Linked DNA regions of Homo sapiens: regions 2 and 3 are each linked to region 1. Evidence: fine-mapped expression QTL. A gene starts in region 1. Each other region holds a variant in brackets. All regions are shown on one strand. Distances are between the middles of the regions.

Region 1 (8,177 bases):
ACATAATCCGAAAGAAGCACTGACGTGTGAGAGGAAGGGAAAACCGGCTGGTTTCTTCCTCATTCACAGCAAATTCAGTGAATAGACAGCAAATAAAATGTGAACACATGGCCAGGCATGGTGGCTCATGCCTGGAATACGAGCACATTGGGAGGCCGAGGTGGGTAGATCATGTGAGGTCAGGAGTTCGAGACCAGCCTGGCCAACATGGTGAAACCCGTCTCTACTAAAAATACAAAAATTAGGCAGGTGTGGTGGTGTGCACCTGTAATCCCAGCTACTTGGGAGGCTGAGGCAGCAGAATCGCTTGAACCTGGGAGGCAAAGGTTGCAGTGAGCCGAGATTGTGCCACTGCACTCCAGCCTGGGCAACAGAGTGAGACTGTCTCAAAATAAAACAAAAATAAAAATAAAAATAAAAATAAAATAAAATAAAACAAAATAAGAACACAGGCACACTCACACTCACTCATACACCCTCATTATCAAACTCTCAATGTTTCTATTTTTTTCTCTTAAAAAGATCTTTAGAAATGAACATTTCCATGGTAAAGAAATGAAGATCGACCATTCCCTTTGTTTTACTTTATTTTTCATATTAAATATAATTTAAAATAAATCATCTAATTAAAAGCATGAGTAGAAGGACTTCCCACCCTCCCTGCTGTTCCTCCCACTGACCTCCCACCTGGCTGGTGGAGGCCGTCTGGGGTTGTTTCCTTGTATGAAGGCAAGTTCCTGTTGGGGGATGAGATTGGGGTGATAATGTTGCTTTCTGTACTAAAAAAAAATTTCCTAATGCACATGTGTAATTTTCACAAAAAAATAAAATAATTGAAATTACTAAAGAGAACAAGCAGACGGGTTTTCACCATGGCCTGGGCATGAATACCTCTCTTGACCTTGTTCTAAGGCACATGGGGACTGCTGGGTGGAGCATGGATCTGGATAGCAGGCTGAGGTGGAGCCTCCCAGCAATCGGCTTCCAGGAGGGAATGGTGTGCAGGCCAGCACCGCCTCCTCTCCATGGACCACTCAAGGCTGAGGCTCCAGAGCAGATGCCTGTGCTATTCCTGACTATTCCTGAAGAGATTGGCACCTGCGGGGCCTGAGTGTTTCCCTGCACAGAGGAGAGCAGGGACTTTGGCGACCCTGGACGCAGCTGGGGACACTGGGCTCGGTTGAGTGCTGTATGAGAGGCCAGTCCTGGTCACAGTAGAATCTGGGGCACATGAAGCTGGGGATTAAGGCAAAGACAGCACATCCAGCCTGGCCACATTGTGGTTTCTATATAAGTTCCTGATGGGCAGGCCTGTCTCTGATGGGCCAGCAGCTGCCCCCATGCCCCGGCACCCACGCCAGTCATCCAAGGTCTCAGAAGGAAACATCTGAGACACTCCTCCAGCTTTGGAATCATGAACTCAGCTCTTCCTGAAAGTATCGTGTGTGTGTGTGTGTGTGTGTGTGTGTGTGTGTGTACCCATGTACGTGTGCATGCGTGTGTGTGCCTGTGTGTTTAGTGCTTGGGGGGTGTGTGTTTGTGGCTTATTGAAACTATGAATTTTACTGAATCAGTAGAGCCGATCATTCTTTCTGCACAAACCTGGTCCCACCTCGGTCATGCCTCTGTCTGACATCTATCAGTCAATTTATCCATCAATGGTAGAATAAAGTCAATTATCAAAGCTGGCAGTGCGGCCGGCTGCTTTCTTGAAAGTAACAATCAGTCGGGGAGCATGTCTTGCTAATTCCATCCTGAATCTGCCTTCTTCCCTCTTGGGACAGGTGCCTGCGTCCGCACCCCTTTCCTCTGCCAATGGGGAGACCACAGGCTTCCCTCCCTGCTTGCGTGGGCTGGACCCCTCCCCACCTCGGCATGGCTTGTATCAGGGGCAGGAAGGTAGCCAGGAGCATCACGCATGTGAAGCAGTAACTATTTTAGTACATCCAAGGGAGGGAGCTGCTTCCTGCTTTACACACAGGTCCAACAACATGAAGACGGGAATCTCAAGAAAAACAAAGTTATAAATCACAAATCAAGATCATAAAATAAAATCAGTATTGAAATAATGGCAGTAAATGGGTGCTTTTGATGTGGTCTGCGTTGTAAGACACAGGGAGAAAATGCCTCTGTAAAACTCTAATAAATCGCTTTGTTTAATCACTAGAATATAAATGGAATTTAAAGGGTCATCTGAGAGTCATCCTTTAAAATAACACATTAGCTTTTCTTCTATGACAGTTTGGGGGAAAGATGCCATTATTTAGAGCTTGTGTACTTCATTTATTTTTAAATTAATAGTTTTTTAGTTTTCTATCTTCAAAAATTTCCTTAAAGCATTCATCTACTTTCTCTATTTCCTTTTCCCTAATTTCAGAGAAGAGTTTGTGTCTTTATTTTCCTGTCGTGGATGCAGAGAGCTCCTGCGGGTGTTTACAAAAGGTCCCTTGGTGTCATTCTGCTTCTTGGCCCTCCATCACTCATGGAATCACAGCTGATGCCTGGGCTCACAGTTCTCCGAGAAATCACTGGTGCCAGGGAAAAGTGTTCTCTGATTGATATAGCACACTTGCTATGTTTCACAGTTCAGCCCAAGCTCTAGCTGCTATTTCTTAAGCAAATGTGTGCTGTCTTCGTGGAGGTGGCAGTGGAGAAAGGAAAATATCAGCTCTCAGTGATATCACTAACAACACCCAGGGCAACAATTACGCTGGCACGTCCTTTACTCTGGGACCTGCCTGGCCCTGAGGCCGTGTGGGCTTTGCTGGTCGGGTCCTCCCAGCCCTAAGAGGGGCAGGTCTCAGGATCCCATTTTGCAGACCGGGAAGTGGGGTCACCAGACAAGGACTGCACACTGTCCCACAACAAGGAGTTGTTGGATCCCAGTCCCAAACCCAACGTGTGTGACTTCAGAACTGGTGCTCTGAGGAGCTTCTCAGTCACCATCACTGTGCACTCCCTTAGCAGGGATGGATGTGGAAACTCACTCCTGAATTGGACAACTATTGCTGTTTTCCGTGGAGCTGCCAGAGGGATCATTGTAGAGCAACGGTCACCAGAGCACCACTCAGCTGTAAACACTCACTGCAACGAAGCTAAACCCAGACGACAGATCTGGCATGGCCTGGCCTCCGCTGCTCCCCAGCCTGGAGGACTCTGGCCATGCCTCGGGGACATTTCTAGGCTGGAGCATAGACGAGCCAGTGCACGGACCTCCAGTTCTGAGTCCTGCCCTAACACCTGGGAGGAACGTGTGAGTTGTTGATGAGCCGCGATCTGTAGCCATGCTGGAGGAGTTGGCATGAATGGGAAATCCACCTTTCTTGCAAACTCCGACATGCCACTGAGAATTCAGAGTGATAAGCTTAGCCTAAAGCTGCCTCCTCACATAAGTTCAGCCTAAATGGCATGAACCCAGGAGGCGGAGCTTGCAGTGAGCCAAGATCACGCCACTGCACTCCAGCCTGGGTGACAGAGCGAGACTCTTTCTGAAAAAAAAAAAAAAAGTCTTTCTGTACACAGTGAACTGTACCAAACTGGACGTGTAAATAGTCTGTAACCTACTCTTGTGCCAGTCATCGAGTTTTCCCTGATCAAGTAAGACAGACCCTAAGCTGGAGCCAAGTGGCTGCTTCTGGACTGCGCTCTGTCTTCCGTAAGTCACCCTACTTTTTCTGTTCATAAATCTTCTTTGGTCCCACGGCAGTGCCGGAATCTCCCTGAATCTCTTCTGGTTCGGGAGGCTGACTGATTCCCGAACCATTCTTTGCTCAGTTAAACTCTGTTAGATTTAATTTGTGTAAAGTTTTTCTTTTAACGAGAGTTAGCTTCTTCCTCCTCCCTGGCCTCGCCTGTCCTTGCTGATGCGGAAACAGGTTCCAAGAGAGGTGCCTGAGCGCGGTCAGGAAACCTCCAGACGTGGCAGAGCCACGGTGACAAGGAGATCCTGTCTCAGGCTGGGGATGTGGGACCCAGGTGTGCAGGCAAAAGAGCTGGGGAAACTGAGGCCTGCAACGGCACAGGGGGAAGCACGAGCACTGTGATCAAAGGCTCAACCCTGCGGTCCATTCCCTGCCCACTGTGGGGCCCAGAGCTGTGAGCTTGGATGCCGGTGTCATGAAGTTAAAGCACAAAGCTTCTGAGTCCCCGTCTGGAGGACAGCTGCCCCGGCATGCTGCCCAGCTGGCTCTGACAGTGTGAGGATAGACTCTCACTGACCCTGCGCTTGAGCTGGACAAGCCTGTGACTCCCTTCCAGCAACAGAATGTGGCCCCCATGCTGCGTAGTACAGAATCTTCCAGGCCTCTGTCCTGGCACCCCTGCTGCCTGAAGCACCTTCCCCGAGGAAGAAGCCACCGGTTTGGAGCGGAAGAGGCCAGCCAAGGGGCCGGGGCCTGGGAACGGTGGGTGGCTGTGCTGAAAACCATCTGAATCAATTCAAGTTGAACTTGAACTGCATTTTATTCCACTGACATCAGAATTGGATCTCCTCTGGGGTTGTGGGAAGGATTCAATATTTAGAGACATTAATTACTTCAGCACCACATTCTGCCTACTGTACGGTACACATGGGGGACAGGACTCAAATTAAACTGGTCCCTGCTCCTGGGGAAGCCACATTCAAAGAGGAGACAATTGTGAATGAAGCTGCCTGGAACATAATGGGGCCGTCTGCAGGGGAAGGCAGGACTAGCTCAACCCTAGGTAATTAAAGGTCTCTGTGAGATGGGTCTTGAGGGTTGAGTAGGAGCTTAAAAAGCAGTTTGAAGGGATGAGTCTTTCCAGGAAGCAGGAATGACCTGTGCGACCCTGAGGGGGTGCAAAGGACAGAGTGTGCTGGAGAAGGGAAGGAGTGCTTTGTCCTTCGTCCTGCCTGGTGGGGCAGGGCCTCCGGGGTACAGACCCCACCACTCGCGTGCACCAGGGGTGACAGCCAGCTCCATGCAGATGGCCTCCAAAGCGGTCGCTCCTGGGCTTAGCTTCCCTGAAATTAGAAGCAGACGCCTGTGCACGTGTATTATCAGCTTTCGAACATTGAAGGAAACAGCTCTTTTGCAATAACTGGATTCATCATGATACAGATTTTCCCTGTGACCTCTTTATTACTTTTACGCACCACCTTGTATTAAAAAAAAAAAAAAGAAAAAGTCTCAGCCTTCTACTCCCTGCAGCCTGGTTGACTCAGATTTCTTTCACTGTTTCTCCTGTACAAACAGGCAAGGGAATGAACCTCCCCTGCCACGGTTTCCAAGCATATTAAAATATGGTCACCCCTGCAGAACTCCTAATGTTCTTGTTTAATGTGTCAGAAAAGCAAATGGAATTTTATTTTGCTTTGGCACCAGTGGAGAAGAATAATCGTGTCCTCATCAGGAGGGCTGGAAGCAGTGTCCATTTGCAAGTCCTGCAGATGGGGGGTCAGGGAGGCTTTGCCTGAGGCTAAAATGCCCTCAGAATCCTCTGCCAGTTCCTGGCCCGGAGGCCTGGTGTTAGTTAGCTCTACAGCTACAGAGAGAAATCCTGGAAGATGGCTTCAGGCCCGCAGCTTCCCAGGAAAGGAGGTCAGATGACATCTCCAAAGTGGTCCTTCCTGGAAGGTTTCAGAGATGATCAACCCCTAAGCAGGGCCCGTGCCTGGTGACTCTCGGGTCCAGGGATGGCTGGCATATTCCTGGCACCGTCCCTGGGTGGGAGCAAGGGCACCATTTGGTTTTGCCTGGAAATTGGACCTTGGCTCCTTGTTCCAAACCGAATGTGGCTGAGGAGCACTCAAATAGTTTCAGGAAACACCCTTCAAATTCAGTTTGCTGGGTTCAGCAAGTCAAAATACAGGAGGATTAGTTACATTTGAATTATAGATAAACAAGGCACTTATTTTTAGTCTAAGCATGTCCTAGGCAATATTGGGGCTAAACTTATAACAAAATTTATTTGTTGTTGACCTGAAATTCATATGGGACTTAGGTACTGAAATTTACCTGGCAATCTACCTCCAGTGCAGCTGACGTTACAAAGGGACTCTGGGTCGTGGAGCTGCCCGGCGTCCTGGCTGTGGGATGGGTACAGGCCTGTAGGCATGCAATGCACGGGCCCACAAAGGGCCCATGGCAGTGCCCAGGTGATCAGGACCAGACGAGACTGTGGGGCCAAAGGGAGGCTGTCACACCTGCGGGGCCCTGGGGAGGGAGCTGTCAGAATTGGGAGGTGGCTTGGATACGGTTGGGGAGCTGGTTGTCCTGGAAAACCGGTGGGTTGGGACATTATTTCCCAGGTTAGGAGGGAGCGGGGAAGGGAACGGGCTTTGCCAAGACATTCTTTTGTCTAATTATTTGGACTGGCACAGCATTTGGGCCCGATAGCACTCAGTATATCTGTGCGCAAATACCTGGCTTGACTGCCCTGTGTCCACCTTCCACCCTGGCCCCCAGGGCTCCAGGCTGACAGTCAGACCTGACCACTTTACCTTCATGCTCAAAAGCCTGTGCTGCCTGCTCCTAATAAACTTGAAACTGGCTTGTCTTCTAAGCTGGGCCTTTGGTGGCCATGATAATTTGGCCTCCTGACAGTAGCTGCTCCAGCATCATTTTTTCCTTCCTTTTTAGAGAGCCATGATCTTACTCAGGATGGCCACACACTCATCTAGAAGAGGCCATCTCCAGGCCTATTCTGCAGTCAGATCAGTCCAGACCACTAGGTTCTGGCCAAGGCGAGGTCAGCAGAAGTATTGCGGTATTCTGGGAGGGCCCCTTCTTCCAGGATAGCACACGTGATGGTTGGTGCACACGCAGCCATCTTGGACCCTGAGGCAAATTCAGTAAGGATCCAAGCATAGTAAGAGAAGGGGCCTGAGCCCTGGAGGATTCCATTCCCCTTCTCTCTGCCCTGTCCACCCCCCGATTTGTGCAGGAGAGAGAAGTGATCTTTCACATTGGTTAGGCCATTGTTCCTTCTTTTTTTTTCTTTCCTAACTTTTCATTCTCCTCTTTTACTATTTCTTGCCTGTTACTCCTTGAAAAGGCACTGCACCATCTTGCTTTGGTCCTCCCCCTGCCTCCTGCCAGGGAGACTTCTCTCTTTTATTTTTTCTCCACCTTACAAGCATCTGCTCAGTCCCCACCCTCAGCTCTCCCATCATCCTCCCGGGTAGATTCCGCAGTGCGCTCCATCCTGCTTCCCCCAGGCAGCCTTGGTGTGGTCTGTGTGCCCCTGGGGTGGGTGCCTGTCCTCCTCTGCTAAGCTCCCAGGGAACATGAACTACGTCTCCTGCCTGATTTCGCCATCATTCTTGATCCCTCTAAAACACAGCGTTTGCCAGACTCTCATGCTGTCAAATGCTCTTTTGCCCTACGCCCTGCTCATCTCATGGGCCTGAAGCTCTACGGAGGGGCAGACGGTTTAACTTGTCATGGAAATCAAGGCTGCGCTGTGAAGGCACACCTGGCTGTTGCTGAGGATGCAAAAGAGAACCGAACACACCCTGGGCCCCCCTGTGGGGGCCGGGGGAGAAACGTCAGGGCCAAGGGCTGTGCCAGGGGCTGGGACTCTAGGCTGAGGCACCTGAGGCAGGCCCTGAAGGTCGGCTCCTCCTCGCCTGAGCAGCTGGAGCCACCAAGCGGCACATTTTCCTTCAGGGGAAATTTGCCAATGTGTTTTGAATGACCGTCCAAAATGTGCGCCCAGAAGCCAGTTGACATAATGAAAACGCTCTTTTGTTGGAAGTCATTTTTCCATGCAGGTATGCATATAAAATCGAATGTGTACTTGAGATGGAAAAACAGATGGTTTAACTGTCTCTAATATTGTAGAGGGGTCACCTATTACCATCATTTCAGCCAAAATTTCCATCATAATGGCGTGCCCCCGGAATCAGGGGGCCGTGGCACCTCCACATCGCCCGTGTGTCTGCATGATCTTCCTCCAGCAGCAGCGGGAGCACACACCCTGTGCCGGGGGCTTCCTGCTGGTGTGGATTAAACGGCTCTCAAGGGTCCATGCACTGGTGTTGTTTTGTCAAGATGTGGCTTTTATTTTTAAAGATGCAGTCTCACCCTGGGTTCTTAGTGTGAGGGGGCGAGCTGGTGCCCTCCCGGGGCCGAGCCAGTCTGCAGCCCCCAGCTGTCTCTCTAGGGACCTGAGATCCATCTGGGGGTGTCCTATTCTGAGCAGCGTGCGAGCTT
Region 2 (8,177 bases), 29 kb before region 1:
ACATGTACAACACATTCATGTGATTTTAATCTAGTGTTGCTAATAATAATTGTAATAATAACCCAAACTAGAAGAATTGGTTTTAGTATTTAAAGATCAATGGCACCTGGAAATTAACAAAATCAATTTATAGACATATATGTATATTTCTGAATATTGTTATAGGGATTATAATAGGACTATCAATAACAACTTTGAAACATAAAATCTATTAGGGTACAATTTTGTGGAGGACTGGCATAGAAATATGAGTGTAAGGTAATAAAAAGGGCTTTAGTTTCAGTTTCAACCATAAAACAGGAACTTACTCAGTTCTTTAAAACATAGATGACACCTGGTATTGATGGCTGTATATTTAGATTCCATGGCAAATATATCAGAACATCTGCAAAGCTATGTCCGTCCTCCCCAAAGGCCATATCTGCACAGCGGTAAACACTGCCCGGAGAGGAAACTCACACACAGCTCCACGGAGGAGGCATCAACTGCTTCCTCTACCTTTAAGGAGGGCAGTTTCTCAAGCTCTATAAGAAGCCTTTAAATGGGTGTGACGTGACCTAGAAATTTCATTTCTAGGATTTTGTCCTAAAAAATATATAAAGATATATGCAAAGAATTAGCTATAAATATGTCCATCTCTGCCTTATTTGAAATAGTAAAAACTTGCAAGCAAACAACATTTCAAACACTTGACCATCCTTTAAATATATGAAGGGGCTCTCGATAACATAAATCCACTGTAGTCATTGAGGGTCATTTCTGCAATAATGGACACAAGATTGTCAATTAAAAAAAGGGATAATTTCTTCAACGTGGTAATGGTGACAGAAAAGTCACATTTAGAATGGGGAGCGAGGCTAGGTGCAGTGGCTCATGCCTGTAATCCCAGCACTCTGGGAGGCCGTGGCAGGTGCATCACCTGAGGTCAGGAGTTCAAGGCCAACCTGGTCAACATGGTGAAACACTGTCTTTACTAAAAAAATATAAAAATTAGCCAGGCATGGTGGAGGGTGCCTATAGTCCCAGCTACTCAGGAGGCCGAGGCAGGACAATCGCTTGAACCCGGGAGGTGGATGTTGCAGTGAGCCAAGATCGCGCCACTGCACTCCAGCCTGGGCGACAGAGCGAGACTACATCTGAAAGAAAAAATTAAAAATTAAAAATTAGAATGGAGAGAGATGGTGCATTTGCAGGAGAGCCATGTGGTGGAGAATTATGCAGCCACAAAGAGGAATGAAGCCTGACCCAGCTGTGATGTGGTTGAACCTCAAGACACGGTGCGGAGGGGAAGAGGCCAGTACCAAAGGTAGCAAGCTGTGTTGCCCCATTCATACGAAAGATCCAGAACAGATCGATCCACAGGTAGGCACAGATCGGCGGCTGCCTATGCATGGGGTGTTGGCGCTGGATGGAAATGTTTCAGAAACAGAGATAGACGCCAAGGTCATGTGCCGAGAGCTGCTAAACGCTGCACTTTAACATGATTTATTTTAGGTTTGCCTGCAGCACCTGTAATCTGTCTCCTCGTGGATGGTGAGACCCCCGGTGTCGCCCCTGTGAGCTCTGGGAGCTGTGCGGGACCCTGCCCACTAGATGGAGGTTTGCCTGACTGTTAATTGACTTGCTCATGGTCAGCCCCCAGGTCAGGGCCAGGCCAGCACCACCACCCATCCGGCTCCTTCCAGGACTCGCTGGGCGGGCTCTGGCTTAGTTCTCCTACTTGCATTGGTCAAAGCCCCTAGGAGACAGTCGGCCTCTTGCCAGCCCATCCTCTGCCCAGCACAGCGTGTTCTCAAGGTTGGAGCAGGCTGCAGGTGCCACGCCGAGGCATCCCAACGGGGATTCCAGGCTCCTCCAGCCTGCCTGTTGTCCTGATCGCTCCCTGCAGCCGCTGCTGCCTGCCAGCGTGGGGGGACCTGTGGGGCAAGAGTGGGGGGCCCTGCTTATGAAGCCCGATCCCATCCAGCGTCAGCCGCGTTCTCGGTGCCCGTGACGGTCTGAAGCTGACGCCTGATTCTGCTTTCTGTCTTGGAGTGCACAGTGGCATTCACGGTCGTCGCCACAGCCATCAGGTCTGTGGAGCCACGCGCAGGTGCGCGCTCCTGGGAGTGGGCTCCAAACCTCAGGTGGGAGAGCAGAGGCTGCAGGGCAGGTAATGTGCTCCCCTCTGTGACTGGGGCAGAAGCCTGCACACCCACCCTGCCTGCGGGCACTGAGCACTCACCCAGACCCGTGGCCGTGCTCTCCACGTTTGTCATCGAGGCCCAGCTCCCCCTGCCTGTCTAGTCTCAAACCAGAGCCCTAGCCTGGTCCCAGATCGTGGGGTGCTGCCCTGGGGTCCCCCATCAACACAGGGTGATGACACCAGTGCCAAGCACCCCTGAGCAATCTCCCCCGAGCAATCTGCTCTATTGCTCTTTCAATGAATGACTCAGAGCCCTGTTCCAGATGCCCAGGCACCTGCCAGCTTCATTGCTGGAGTGAAAGGAGGGGTGATGGGGCTGCCATAAAAGATGACACTGGGACCATGTTAAGGTCACCTCCCGTTTCTTCTTCAGGTCTCCATGACTGAACTCACAGGGCCGCCCTAGGACCACTGCAGCCGGGAGTGCAGAGTGTGGGGGTGGGAGGTGCCTCTGCTTTGAGGTCTGGGGCGGCAGGTGGGAAGGGCGGGGGAAGGCGCCGTTTTGTCGGAGTCTCCTGCTGGGTTGGGGGTCGGTAATTCCTGGGGTTTTGGGAGGAAATCCTGTTTCTGGAGGAAAATGGCAGCTCCTGTGGGGGAAGCTTGTCTGAGCCTTGGGGCAGCCTGGGACACACGTGTGCGTGCACATATGTACATGCATGTGCACACAGGCACACACTGGCATGCACATGTCCCCACACATGTGGACACACATGCACACTCACAAGTGTCCTCACACGCATCCACATGCACACACGTCATAGCACACATGTACATATATGTCCTCACACACATGCACACACGTGTCCTCTCACACACACACTCACATGTGTCCTTACACGCACCTGCACGCACACACATGTCCTCTCACACATGCACACACGTGTCCTCTCACAAATGCACTCACACGTCCTTACACACACGCACATGCATGCACACACGTGTCCTCACACAAGTACACACGTGTCCTCACACATGCACACACACGTGTCCTCACACATTCACACACGTGTCCTCTCACACACTCACTCACGTGTCCTTACTCACATGTGTCCTCACATACATGCCTACACATACAGAAGTGTCCTCAGACACATGCACACACGTGTCCTCAGACACTCACATGTGTCCTCACACACATGCACACACGTGTCCACACACATGCACACACGTCCTCATGCACACACATGCACACTCCCACGTGTCCTCACACACATGCACACGTGTCCTCCCATGCACACACGTGCGCACACACAGGCTACGAGGTGGGGCTGTCCCCAGGGCTGTGCCTTTTCTTGGCCATCCTGTCCCACCGCGTCCTGGCCACACTCCCAGCAAGGACTTACCTGACTCAGCTGTTTCTGGACTTCCTACCTGTGCCTCCGTCCTGTCTGCCATGACTGTACTCCAGGATCACAGCTGATTAGTCATGGATTACTAATATCTGCTAGAGCTAGCCACTCCCTCCTTCCCCTCATTTCTCCTATTTTTGAATCATTTTTCCATTTGAAGTTAAAATCCCTTGACTAATCCCAGAGAAAGCAACACATTAGTATTTTGATGGCGATTGCATTCAATTTGCAAATTAACTTGGAAGAATAGACATCACTGTCATACTAACTTTTCCTGACCATGTGAATTTCCATTTTTGTTTTTTTCATGAATGTTGTGAAGTTGTCCTCACACAGGTCTCGCCCATTTCTTGTTAAATTTATTCATAGGTATTTTATCTCTTTTGTTGCTGTCGTAAACGGGGCCTTGGCTTCCATTGTGTCTTCTAGCTGGTGGTTGTGCATTATCGCATTTTGTCTCGTAGCCTGCGTTCCTCTGCGTATGCCTCATTCGGGCTTCAAGATTGGATTCCTTTAAAAGACAAAGACTGTAGCTTCTTTCTCTTCAAATCCTCCTAGTGTCTGGCTGAAAGTCTTGCCCTTAGTATGGGAAAATGGCTTTTGGAAGTGGATTAGGAAATGAGAGCACGGATCTCGGACAACGGGCTCAGATCTGCAGGCTCAGTTTCATAATCCGTCAGCTAAGGTTGCAGCACCTGTACCCACAGCACATATGCTGCTCGCAGATTCGGATACACGTGTGGGTGTGCGCTGTGTGGACGGCGGTGGGGTCCATGTACCTCAGGGGCGGTGCTGCCCCTGGAAATCTCGGGGCTGGCAGGGACTGTCACTACGAGCTGAGACCCAGGTGTAGACTGGTTCCCAGGTGTGGTCAGAGTCAGCATCCACCAGACTGGAGCGCCCTGGGGTGAAGGCAAGTCCCCAAAGTCAATGTGATGCCCACGTGCACGTTCTGCCTCTGGAGACAGAAGAGTCTGAGAGGTGGGAGGGGGCCTTGCCAGACCCCTGCCTGGGTCCCTGGCTAACTATGAGGGTTTTGCTTTGGGGAGTGGCTGAGACTCACACACCTCTGAGCTGGGAGAAGGAGGTGGGAATGAGAAAAGGGAAAGAGGGGGCC[G/A]GAAGGAGGCGCAAAACGTCCCTGATGCAGCGCCGTCCCAGGATGCCTGCAGCACAGGCACGGGGCTCTTGCAGGCTCCTGCGTCCCCAGGGTGGAGCATATGCAGCCTCCGTCACCTAAGACAGCAAACACCACGAGAGTGGCAGCCTCACAGTCACCTTGTGTCATCTCCTAGCACAGCAGGTGCACTCCTGGTCTCTGGGCAGCCTGAGAGGCAGGTCTTGCTGGGTTTACACTAGAGATGAGGAGACAGGAGAGAAACAAAGGAGTTACCCCATGGTCAGGCTCTGGTGGAGGTGTGTTCCTCCTGGTACTTCCCCTCACGCACCTGCATGACCCCCAGCAGCATCTGTGGCAAGCAGGCCCTGTGCTTGTCCCTGCCAGGCCCCTTCCCCACAGTGTTGGCCCCTCCCGGGCCCTCCGCTGGCCTCAGCTGCCAGCTGCCCCTGAGAATGAGCTCCCTGAGGGCAGGGCTTGGCTCCCTGTACCGTGTACTCCCTTCACCCTAACTGTGGAGGGCACAGAGCAGGCGCTGGGCACATGTGCATTCAGTGAATGAGTGGATGGATGGAAGGGGCTGCCTACCTCCCTGGCTTCTCTTCTCGGACAGGTTGCAAGGACTTGGGCCATAGCACTGGTCCGCATCCAAGATGTGAGGTCCCACTCAACACTGTCTGTCCATCTCTCCCCCTGCCAGTCCCCGCCCTCGGCCACCAAGCTCAGCCACCAAGCTCAGCCACTAAGCTCAGCCCTGCCATTTCTGAAGGGGGTGCTCAGAGCCAGAGCTGTGAGGGGCAGCTGTCCACTCCGTGGGGGCACATGGGAGCTACCTTGTCCAGGGCTTTGTGCTGGAAGATCTGAGCAGAGCTGGGAGAGTAGGCTGGACACGTGAAGAACAGGTCAAGGGTGGCCTTAGGCACTGGGGGAGCTTCGTTGTTCTCTGTCACCAGCATAATCTCTCTGAGGGCTCCCACCTTCCACATAGCGGGGGGCGATTTTAGTCATTCATTGCTGGTATTGCAGTACTTCCTTCCAAGCTATCTCTCTTGGGCGATGCAACTTCTTTTGCATAAATTCCTGGACTTTTAGTTTTTTTTCCCTAATTCCCTGCTCCTCACATGGTGGAGGCCAGGTGCCTGGGGATAACCCACGATGACTGCCCTGTGCAGATGCTGGGGTCTTAGGGTCTCAGGGCCTCAGCCATCACCAGCCTTGGCCTTGGATCAGCTCCAGCAGATGGGCCTCGGCAGGCAGGACCCCTCCTTTTGGCTGTTTGGCAGTGCTCGCATCTGGGGACCGTCACTAACCTGCCCCCACCCATGCTGCTGCCCTGAGTGCCCACCCCCAATCCCAGGTTCTCCAAGGGTTCCCCATGGCCCCTGGTTAGGTTTCCCACAGGGTTCCCCACGGCCCCTCCCATGTACTAGAGGGTGTCTGGGCATCCTGGCCATGCCTGGGCAGAAAGCATTGGCAGTACCCCTCCCACATCTACATCTAGAAACTTCTCCGCTGAAGCAGAGCTGCCCCTCCCACCCATGCACAGAGGACGCAGGACGCCCCTGAGACATGGCAGCCAGGGGCATCCCAGGACCTGAGACGTGGAGCTTCTCATACCCTCTCAGGGGTCTTCCCAGAGCCCATACCCCCACATGGGGCCCAAGAGCTGGGAGAAGAGAGAGTCTGGCCTCCACTCCTCATCTACCTTGGCGCCCTCCTCCCTCTACACCCCACTGGGTAGCATTTCCTCTTTTTCCCCTTCACCATCTAGAAGGGGTTTCCCTGTGAAATAACCTTGGCCTCTGGGCTTCAGCCAGGGACCGGGCCTAGGTGCTGACCGGGCAGTCAGGGACCCGCGGAATCGGCCCATCTCCCTGGAAGAAACAGAGCAGGCTCTGAGCAGGGAAATGGGGCCTGGCTCCCCCAGGCTGGACTGTGTTGAGTGAATGAAGAAATGCAGCCGTGTGGGTGAGTGAGTGAGTCAGTGAGTGAGTGAGTGGCAAGGGGACAAAGCCAGGTCTAGGGGAGTGACACATTTGTCCTCCGGCCCCCAAGACTGAATCTCCATGTGCTCCTCCCGGAGCCCAGTGCTCCCTGCAGAGCTGCAGGGCCTGTGAGTGGAGATGGATGGGACAGATCCCTCCTGCCCTGGCCTCCCCGTGGTCTCCTAGACCCATGAGCCTCGCCTCCCTTTGGCACTTGTATTAGTCCCTTTCATACTGCTATAAAGAACCGCCCAAGACTGAATAATTTATAAAGGAAAGAGGTTTAATGAACCCACAGTTCAGCAAGGCTGGGGAGGCCTCAGGAAACTTCCAATCATGGTGGAAGGCGAGGGGGAAGCAAGCACCTTCTTCACAAGGATGCAGGAAGGAGAAGTGCTAAGTGAAGGGGGAAGAGCCCCTTACGAAACCATCAGATCTCATGAGAACTCACTCACTATCATGAGAACAGCATGGGGGAAACCGTCCCTAGGATTCAGTTCCCTCCACCTGGTCTCTCCCTTGACACGTGGAGATTACGGGGATTGCAGTTCAATATGAGATTTGGGTGAGATAGGAAACCAACCATATCAGAGACTTGGCTGCCCAAGTCTCTGGCTAAAGTCACGGGAACTCCTTGGGCTTCAGGGGTGCATGGATGGGAGGACGACTCCTGCTTTCAGTGAACTCATCTGAGGAAGCGGCTGGCCAGCAGGATCTAGAGTTGCTTGGACAGGAGTGGGAGAGGAAGGGGTATTTTTAAATATGAGGGATGCGTTGAAGGACCACAAACCCACACTCCAGGAACACCAGGGCCCCTCAACTTCCTTCTTAGCAATGCTCGAATTCCAGCCAGGCTGTTCCAAGTCCCAGGACCCCCTGAGTGGCCTCTATCCCTCCCGCTGTATCCTGGGGGCTCTGGTCTTCAGCTTCTTGGGCTGTGCTAGGGGAGGATCTGCAGATGGAGCTGGGGGATGGTTCCAGGGAGGAAAGGGGATCCTCTGGCCTTCCACAGTGAGGGTTTGTCTTATTCCTCAAAGCTCCCTCAAAGGATGGTTCAAGTCACTTGCCTGGCAGACAAGAGGGATTCAGTCCCAGGTGGGGGATAGGGTGTGGCTTTTCCATCTCTCTCTCTCCATGCTGTTCCTGCGCCCGTCTCCACGTGAGACCCCACATCACATTCTCACTCCCGCCACCACACACAGAAGGGGCTGTGTTGCTGGAGCACCTCCCCTAACTTGTACCTGCATCAGAGCTGCCCTGCGGGGGCTGGCATGGGGTGCTCCACGCTGCAGGATGGCACCTTTCATTCCACAGACCTCGCTCCTGGTTCCAGCTCCATCCACTCCTCTGAACAGAACCCAAGCTTCCGCTAATGGTGCCTGTTTAGTGCTTACCAGAGGATTATGCTAAAATACGTTTTTTTTTTCTTAAATAGAAGTAGATAATCTCCAAACCCGTGTTTTCTTGCCTTTCCCTGTCTTGTCTTTGCACAGGAGGGTCTTGAGGAAAATGCCCTGGTGCGGGCTGCGCCCTCTGCTGTCACC
Region 3 (8,177 bases), 27 kb after region 1:
TTTCTACAGAATTTTCCTCGTCGAGCTGGCAGGCCGGGTGGGGGCTGTTTTTGTGGACGGGGGTCTGAGAGATTTGCCCAGTGTCGCAGGGCGTCCCAGGCTCTCTCCTTACCTGCAGTCAGCAGGATGGACAAGCAGGGGCTCCACACGAGGCCAGGGGCTGCGAGGTGGCCACGGCAGGCAGAGCATGAGAAGGAGGCAGAAGAGGAGGAGGAGGCCTTGGGGCTCCAGCCTGGGGCAGCAGCTGTGGAGGAGGCAGGCAGGGGAGGGAAGATGGAGGTGGGGCAGCATTCCCAGCCTCTGTTGTCTCTCACGTGGGGGGTGTCTTGGCCTCCTGATGGGATGGTGGGTCACTGGCGGACAGGAGAGGGGTACAGGCTGTGGGCCAGTCACATTCACATTCAAGTTCTTTACCAGGGCAGAACCAGATGGAGGAACAAGGGGCTGCTGACCGTGTGGGGGTCTCAATGAGCATTTTACATGTGTGTCCAACATTTACCCACTGGGTACTAGGAACAACCACTAACCTAATAACAAACGTAGACTTTTTCACTTTTTGTTCAAAGTTGGGGATTTTAAAAAATGTCCACAGCCAAGCGTGCCACCCTGCCCACCGCTCCGCTCCTCTGTGATGTCACCCTATTTCCACGGCCCCCAGCGTGGGTATCATCAGCCCCTCTCTGATGGAGATGTCTATGAGCCTCTGTGGAAACTTGCTTGTATCTAAATGCTGTGTCTTCTTGCCTAGTTTTCCTATCAGCAAATCGTCTCTCACTTTGGTGTAAATTAACTGTCCTCCTTCAGTTTTCTTTTCTGGTTTTCTAGACCAAGCAGCATCTTAGGAGACACATTAATGGTTTTATATTGAAGTAGAGTAGGTCACTTTCTCCCAGTAGAATCATGAGGCCCTACAAAGCTCCCCAAATATCCATGTTTTCCCCACCATCCCCAGTTTCCAGGGAGGGGCACATGGCTGATTTTCCTGAGTGAAAGGTGAGCGAAGCAGTGTGGGGCCCAAGATCACTGTGACCCGGTGCCTCACTCCCTCCTTCTTCCATTCCCGAGCTGGGCTGGAAGTTAAGGGCTGAGATGGGGGAGCTGCAAACGGAAGAGGGTGGGTTCCCCCATCACCACCCAGAGGAACCTGTGCCAGAGAGGCATGTGGCTGCCCTTGGGGCTGGAGTGTTGGTGGTGCCAGTCCCATTTCTTGGGATCTCTGAGGAAGAAGAGCAGTGGGACAAGTGGTTTTGCATTTCCACCTCTGGGTGCTGTCCACATCATACTTATTGTAAAAGGTCAGAGTGGAAGCCTGGGGCAGTTCCCAGCTTGTCTCTGATCAGTCACTGCTCTTATGATGTAGGGCACCATTTAACACAGGGTAACAAAGCCTCCGTTTATCAGTCCAAAGGCAGGGAGTGCTTGGCTGGCAGGGTGACTCTGCTACCTCATTAAATGGCTTCAAACTCTGAGCTCAGGATAGCTGCTCTAGCTCCTGCCATCACATCTGCATCCCAGCTAGCTGGAAGGAAGAATGGGCCAAAGAGAGTGCATGCCCGTTACTTTGAAGAACATTTCCCAGAAATGGGGCCCATTCCTTGTGCCTAGGTCCCATGGGACAGACCTAATCACACAGCCACACCACGCTGCAAGAAAGTCCAGAAAAGCTTGCCTCTATCTGGGCAGAGCCATGTGCTCAGTTGCACTCGAGGGTATCTCAGAGTTTAAGAGGAAGTGAGTGACTGGAGGTTGGCAGAGAGCTGGCAGCCAAGCCTGGGCTTCTCCTCCTGGTGGGTCTGAGGCCAGCTGGCATGAGGTCTGGTCGAGAACTGCCATCCTGACCCAGAAGGCAGGAGGTGAGGCTGAAGACTTGGTGGAATTTACTGGAAAGAGGTGTTTCCAGAGTTCACTGGTCTGTGTTTTTCTCAACATGGGCACTGCTTCCTTCAGCACAGCAGGTAACCTGCTGGGAGGAACTGGAGCCAGGAGCAGCTTGGTCACTTTCTGGTCGTCCATGTCACACTTGTCACGGATAAAGTCTGCAGGTTTCAAAGTGTGTGGTTCCCCTCACTGTATCCCAGGAGAGCTACATGCTGGGGGTGGAGGTCTGCAGCAAACCTCCAACCACACAGACGCTGGTTGCGAGTGTTCTGACCACAGCACGGGCAAGCAGGGGTCACTCGGAACTCATTTTGCTAGATGGTGTTGGATAATTCCTGTTCCCTTTTTTCCCAGCTGTTCAATGGCATGCTTTGTTTTGGATAGAATCGGACTCCCTCCCCAGCAGAGAGCGGGAGGCAGGCATTGTGATCCCTGTGCACTACAGTAGCTGGTGTTCTAAAGATGCCCTGCGTGGCATGGCCTCATATTCTGGAGCCAAACAGACTTCTGGGGGGATGGTGTCTCCGTTTCCCCAACCCCAGGGGCCCAGCTGGGAGGAGACAGCAGGCAAGGGTGTCCCCTGCTGATCTTTCCACAAGACCTGCACTCAGTCCCCACATCAATGGGCACTGCCCACCCAGACAGCACCTACTCCTGTGGGCAGCACCCAGAACCGGTGCTCACGATGGGGAAGTCAGGACTTTGGAGAAGCGGGAAACTGGAGCCCGAGGGCAGGGTGCTCAGGAGAGACCCATCCAGACAGCAATGCTCAAGGCCAAGTGAGACCAACGACCTGGAATCCAGGGAGAAAACAGTGCCAGGTACTGACCACACATGGGACGAGGGTGCTGACCAGAGGGATGAGGGCACTGACCACAAACAGGGACGAGGAAACTGACCACACACAGGGTGAGGGTGCTGACCACACACAGGACGAGGGCACTGAGCATGTACACAGGATCAGGTATCATAGGAGGGAGTGAAGAACTCCCAGCAAAATCCAGGAAGGAGCACGGCAGAGAGACCTGGGTGTGGACGGAGAGACCCGGGTGTGGACAGAGCACTGCAGAGAGACCCAGGTGTGGACAGAGAGACCCGGGTGTGGACAGAGAGACCCGGGTGTGGACAGAGACCTGGGTGTGGACATGTTCTTCTGTCATGGGGAGGAAGAGAAGGGAGAGCAAGAAGGCAGAGGAGAGGAAACAGGAGGGAGCGAGGGAGGGCGAGAGGGAGAACACCCCTCTGTAGTAAGAGATGCATCTCGGGCAAGCTGCGTCCTTCCTCTGCTGGAGGCCCCCATTGCTCTACTGTGCTGGGTGGTGTCGGCAGGGTGGCAGATAGAGGGGTCTCCTGGGCCAGCCCATGTGTCCCAGGAGTGAGGTCCACTCCCGCTGGGCCAGCCCATGTGTCCCAGGAGTGAGGTCCACCCCCGCTGGGCCAGCCCATGTGTCCCAGGAGTGAGGTCCACCCCCGCTGGGCCAGCCCATGTGTCCCAGGAGTGAGGTCCACTCCTGCTGGCGACATGAGCAGTGCTTTCTCTAGAGGGTATGGGGAGGCAGAGGAAGCCCCTGCTCTTCCAAGCAGCAAGGAAGGGTGATAGCCTGCACCCTTCAGGCCTTCACCATGGCTGCACTCTCTTCTGAGTGTAAGAAGCTTCTACTGTAACAGACCCTGGCAAGCAGGAGCTGCGATGGGGCAGCCCAGACCCAAGGCACAGGGAGCTGAGCCCGGGGCAGGCCAGGGCTGGGACCCTGCAGGGGCCGATGTAGGGCTGTAGTCATTACAGGTGCTCGGTGGCCTCCCTACGAGGGCAGAGCCCATCCTCAGGAACGGTCACCACCGGCCTGGCCTCCGCTTCTTCCCTGGGCAGTGTCTCCCTCACACCATCTCTGAGCCTCAGCCCTGTCTGTTCAGTGAGGGGCTGAACCGCTGCTCCCAGAGGCCCCTCTGCCTGGGCAGCGTCCGGCCTCAGGCCCTGACTGCAGGACGTTTGCAGGACGATGCCTCCTGCCTCCCTCCGGGGACAATCTCTCACATCCTCCCTGTTCCTTTCCATGTGGCCTCTGGCCGCCTCGCATCTGAACTGCTGAAGTCCTGTTTCTCTGGGCCTCATCCTCTCCTCCATCAAAATGAGGAACCGTGGACTGCAGGAGCATTGAGGAAGCCACGTGGAGTCCCCGCTCTGTGTTGAGCCCCGTAGGGTGCCCTTCCTGTGGGCGGCCATTCTGGGCGTGGCGCCCCCTGTCTGAAATCAGCAGCACACCAGCTCCCTGTGCTCCGTGTGACAAGCTGCCAGGGACAAAGGTAGCACCCGGACAAGCACCCAGGCTTTTCTTCCTCATTCTAAACCCCATTGGAGCCGCAATCTCCAGGTATAATAGCAGCTTGTTAACAAATCCTGTTTGTGTTGCATTTGCTGACAGAGAGACTCCCCTGGGACCACAGCAGTAGGCACGGCATTCCTGTGACAGAAATCAATGCCACAGATCGAGGGATGGAGCCACCGGCT[C/T]CCCAGGCTGAGTCCCCTTCCGGTAACACGGCCACACTCCTTCCTCCCTCCAAGAAGATCCCAGGGAGGGCGATCCCGCCTGGATGCGTTCCTCACTCCCTTTCAGGTGGCCCCAGACGCTGGGCATTGGGAGGTGGCCACATGGGGACATGGACATGAAGGCTGGGTAAGTGTGGGGACCAGGCGAGCTGGCTGCTGGACACCCACCCACCCTGTGAGCTGCACCAGACCCTACTCTCTGTGCTCTGGACCCCAGGAAGCAGTCAGGATTGGGGGGGTCCCACTCACAGGCCCCGGCGCCTTCCACCTGGGCAGCTGCCATGTGCACCCTCAGGCTTCAGACTCCTGGCCACGGGGGCGGTGGTGTGGACCCCAGGCCGTGTGTGCAGATGCAGCAAGGTGACATCAGCCATACATTCACTGCGTCACTCCTCACCCAGCTCCTTCTCAGAGCCTCACTCGGAACAGCACATCTCCCATCTCAGCTGCCCTGGCCACTTCTGTGTAGGAGGCAGGAGGGATACTCCCACCACCCCGACCCTTACAGATAACAGGCTCAGAAAGGCACCTGACCCCACAGCCCTTCAGTTGGGTTTGAACCTGGGTTGCTTGGTTTCAAAGCACAGGGGTTTGTCCTGCCCAGTCACACCCCTCAAAGTGTGGATGTGGGAAACACCGCTGAGGAGCCTGGACATCCAGGAGGGCTCAGGAGACCCTTCCTGACTGCACCCCGGACAGGCCCACGACAGGCAGATGGGACACAGGTCAGGATGTGGCAGGCACACGGCCTGGCTTCTAGACACTTCTCAGACCTGGGAGAGGAGAGAGGGACAGGTGGTGTGGGCGTGCTGGAGGCGGGAAGGGGATAAGAGTGTTGGTTATCACGGGCAATGTGGACACACGGCCAGGACAGGGGTCCACAGTATTTCAGGAACCTCCCACAAGACGAAACTTCTAGACAGACTTCCCTCCCTGTGAGATACCTTAGGCTGTAGTGGAGAGGTCGCTGAAAGAATCGATATTTCTAGAAATTAGCTTTGGGATCAGTTTGCGAAGCTGCATCTATGCTGACAAGTGAATGAAGCCCGTGGGCAGGGAATACACTGAGGCCTTAGGCCTGCAGAAGAGCACAGGTGCACCTGCGCCACATGGGCCAGAATCAACCCAGGTGAATTCCAGCCCATGCCATTGATGCCAACCATGGACGAGGAATCCAGCTGGGGCTGAAGTTCCGCTACGCTGTCAGTTCCACTGGGGATGTGTGTTGCTCCTTCAGCCTCTGCCAGACACACAGGCCCGGTTCCAGCACCCGGGTGTTTGAGGGTGAGTGTGTGGGAGTGAGGCTCAGGAGGAACTGTGGGATCCAAAGTCAGTGAAAACGGTGAGGGTGAGGGAGGAGGGAGGATGGTGGAGGGCAGGGGTGAGTGAAGGGCAGAAAGGGGCGATGGGGTGAAGGGCAGAGAGGGGTGATGGGGTGAAGGGCAGTGGGCAATGGGGTGGAGGGCAGAGTGGGGATGGGGCGGAGGGCAGGGGGTGATGGGTCGAGGACAGAGGGGGGATGGGGTCGAGGGCGGGGGGGATGGGGTGGAGAGCAGAGGGCATGAGGCAGTGGGCAGGGGGTGGAGGGCATGTGGGGACAGGGCAGGGGTGGGAGGTGATGGGGTGGAGGGCAAGGGGGGACATGGCAGGAGCAGAGGGGGTCGGGGCAGAGCGAGGGGGAATGGGACACCATTATTGGAGACAGTGGCAGATATAAGCACTGGAGAAAAGCAGGTAAAGGATGTGCGGGGCAGGGGATTGGAGGGGACGCTTGAGCAGACACTGAAATAATCCGTTATGGGAAGCGTTATGGGAGAATGGGAGCCAGGAACTGAAATTGCAGGGGGTGAGCGTGGTGGGAACTCTGAGGGGCGAAGGGTGAGGCCGGCATCCTGGTGTTCTCACACAGGGCAACCTCTCATTTCATTTCCGTTGTAGCCAGTGTGTGAGTCAGCCAGGGAGCCTCAGCCTTTCCCACTGGCTTCAAAAAGATGTGGAGGCTGATGGGGAGGAGGAAGGTTCCCCAGAGCAGGAGGCCATCTGATGTAATGAACATGCCTTCCTAAGACGCTGCCTGGGCCGCAGCCAAGTGTGGTCGCTCTCTGAGCAATCGATGCTGCCACAAAAGGTCCTGGCAGCAGCGGCACGACCCCTGCACCCCGCCTGCTGCATCCAGGACAGCGCCGGCCTCCCACGGCGGCTCCCGGGAGAAGAGGAGACGCCACTTTGGCTGCTGTCCCGGGGAGAGGGGGGACAGTCCTTCGACTTCATGCAGGGGCTTGTCAACCCCAAAGCTTCCTCCGCCGCCATCTGGGTCTGACGCTCTCCGCTGGAAGGTGTTCAGGAGCTGGCACCCCACGTCCACCAGCGCTGGCTTCAAATCAAACAATAAACAGCATTTAAAAAAAATTAGTCCCACAGGTGAAGCCAGAGTCCCCTGCAGATGCCTGTTCCTTCACACTCCGCGCCTTCCACTGCCTTCCAGTGGTTGCACTCTCAGGCCTGTGGACGCACCTCGGCCAGAGCAAACCTGTAGCCTCTTCCCCAGCACGAAAGGCAGAAGGTGAAAATCACCAGGTCCCTGTACCATCAGGAAGGACCTGAACAGCCTCTGTCACCGTGTATAACAAGTCTCACTGACTCCTTCTCCGGAGCAGGGCTCCCGGGTCTGAGGCAAGGCTTCAGGATGCTTTCCCGGCTCAGCCGTGGCCCTCCATTACCTGCCCTGCCCGGCTTCTGCCCCACAGGGCTGCCTGGGGTCCTGGCCACTTTGGGTGAGGAGAGGATGGCTCCAGCCTCCTGACCTTGGAGGCTCCACAGACAGAAGACGCCGCCCCGGGACATGAGGGCCCTGCCTGGCTTTGACCCTCCTCTGATAACAGGGGACAGCCGATGCCCTGCTGGGCCCACGGGGAACAGAAGCCAGTCTGGGCTGGGCCATCCCCTGCAAGTGGTCCACTCCCCCCACCGGCTGATGGTGGAGTCTAGGCTGGCCTGGTGACATGTGGGCCTCCAGAGGTGACAGAAGGGATATTCAAACTTCCAAGGCCCCAGAGGCCTCCACCCCTGCCCAAGCACAGTTCAAACCTTCAAGCTCTTGGGGGTACTTTTGTGATGGCTGGGTTGGGGCTGGTGCTTCATCTTCTCTTCCAGTCAGTGGAGTGAAACAGCAGGTCCATCTTGCATGTCTGTGTCTGCAGACGGATGGTCCAGGGCCATCCCTACACCCTCCTGTGCTGGGCCCGCAGGGAAGCCAGTTCTACCAGCAGTCTGCAGGTAACAGGGTCCCAGGCCAGGCGCTCCCCTTGACCCCCTGTGGGTTTGTTCCTGCCACCCGCTCTGCCCCTCCCTGGGTGCCCCCCACCCCCAGATCTCCTGCAAGATGGACGTCAGGGTCCTGGGAGAAAACAGTTCTGTGCTGGGGCCGCTTTGACTCCCAAGGACCCCGTGTCCAGAAGAACGGCAGCTTGTAACCCCATCCCTGTAATGAGAATGAAAATTAATTCAATTTGTATCATTTCCTATAATGCACCATCCTCGGCCTGAGATGGAAATTGTGAGATGTTATTTTCTACTGGAGGCGCGTGGTTTTTTACAGGCAGTGTTAGAATTTTAATCCTTCATGTTCTGAAAAGCATTAGAATCAGTTAGCCTTCCACAGTGCACCGTCTCCCCTCGCGATGAAGCCTGTTCCTTCTGAGGGGCTCCCGTTGGAGGACAGCAAAGGGCCCCACAGTGGAAGGGGTCTTGG

Which allele goes with the higher level. Alleles are on the strand shown, and positions count from the first base shown. SD is a standard deviation of normalised expression in the study named. Not every link is listed here.
With allele A in place of G in region 2, the expression in amygdala of the gene that starts at base 3,578 in region 1 is higher (moderate effect, 0.51 SD a copy in GTEx).

The links. PIP is the estimated chance that this variant, and not a neighbour inherited with it, causes the effect.
Region 2: its variant is fine-mapped to the expression of LINC01310 in amygdala (GTEx, PIP above 0.99). The same link has a PIP of 0.9 or more in cerebral cortex and prefrontal cortex.
Region 3: its variant is fine-mapped to the expression of LINC01310 in tibial nerve (GTEx, PIP above 0.99). The same link has a PIP of 0.9 or more in cerebellar hemisphere.

The regions. Positions count from the first base shown.
Region 1 is chr22:48,863,193-48,871,369 of GRCh38, forward strand. LINC01310 (long intergenic non-protein coding RNA 1310) reads left to right here and starts at 3,578. Exons shown (of 7, transcript NR_038944.1): 1 at 3,578-3,655. RefSeq lists enhancers at 5,599-6,100, 6,101-6,600.
Region 2 is chr22:48,834,226-48,842,402 of GRCh38, forward strand. No RefSeq gene overlaps it. Among named protein-coding and RNA genes, the nearest start is that of LINC01310, 28 kb to the right of the region's middle. RefSeq lists an enhancer at 2,844-3,371. The variant G/A (reference allele first, on the strand shown) is at 4,652.
Region 3 is chr22:48,890,434-48,898,610 of GRCh38, forward strand. It overlaps LINC01310 (long intergenic non-protein coding RNA 1310), which reads left to right. Exons shown (of 7, transcript NR_038944.1): 4 at 2,233-2,699; 5 at 3,971-4,182; 6 at 4,302-5,710; 7 at 6,365-7,953. Among named protein-coding and RNA genes, the nearest start is that of LINC01310, 28 kb to the left of the region's middle. The variant C/T (reference allele first, on the strand shown) is at 4,388.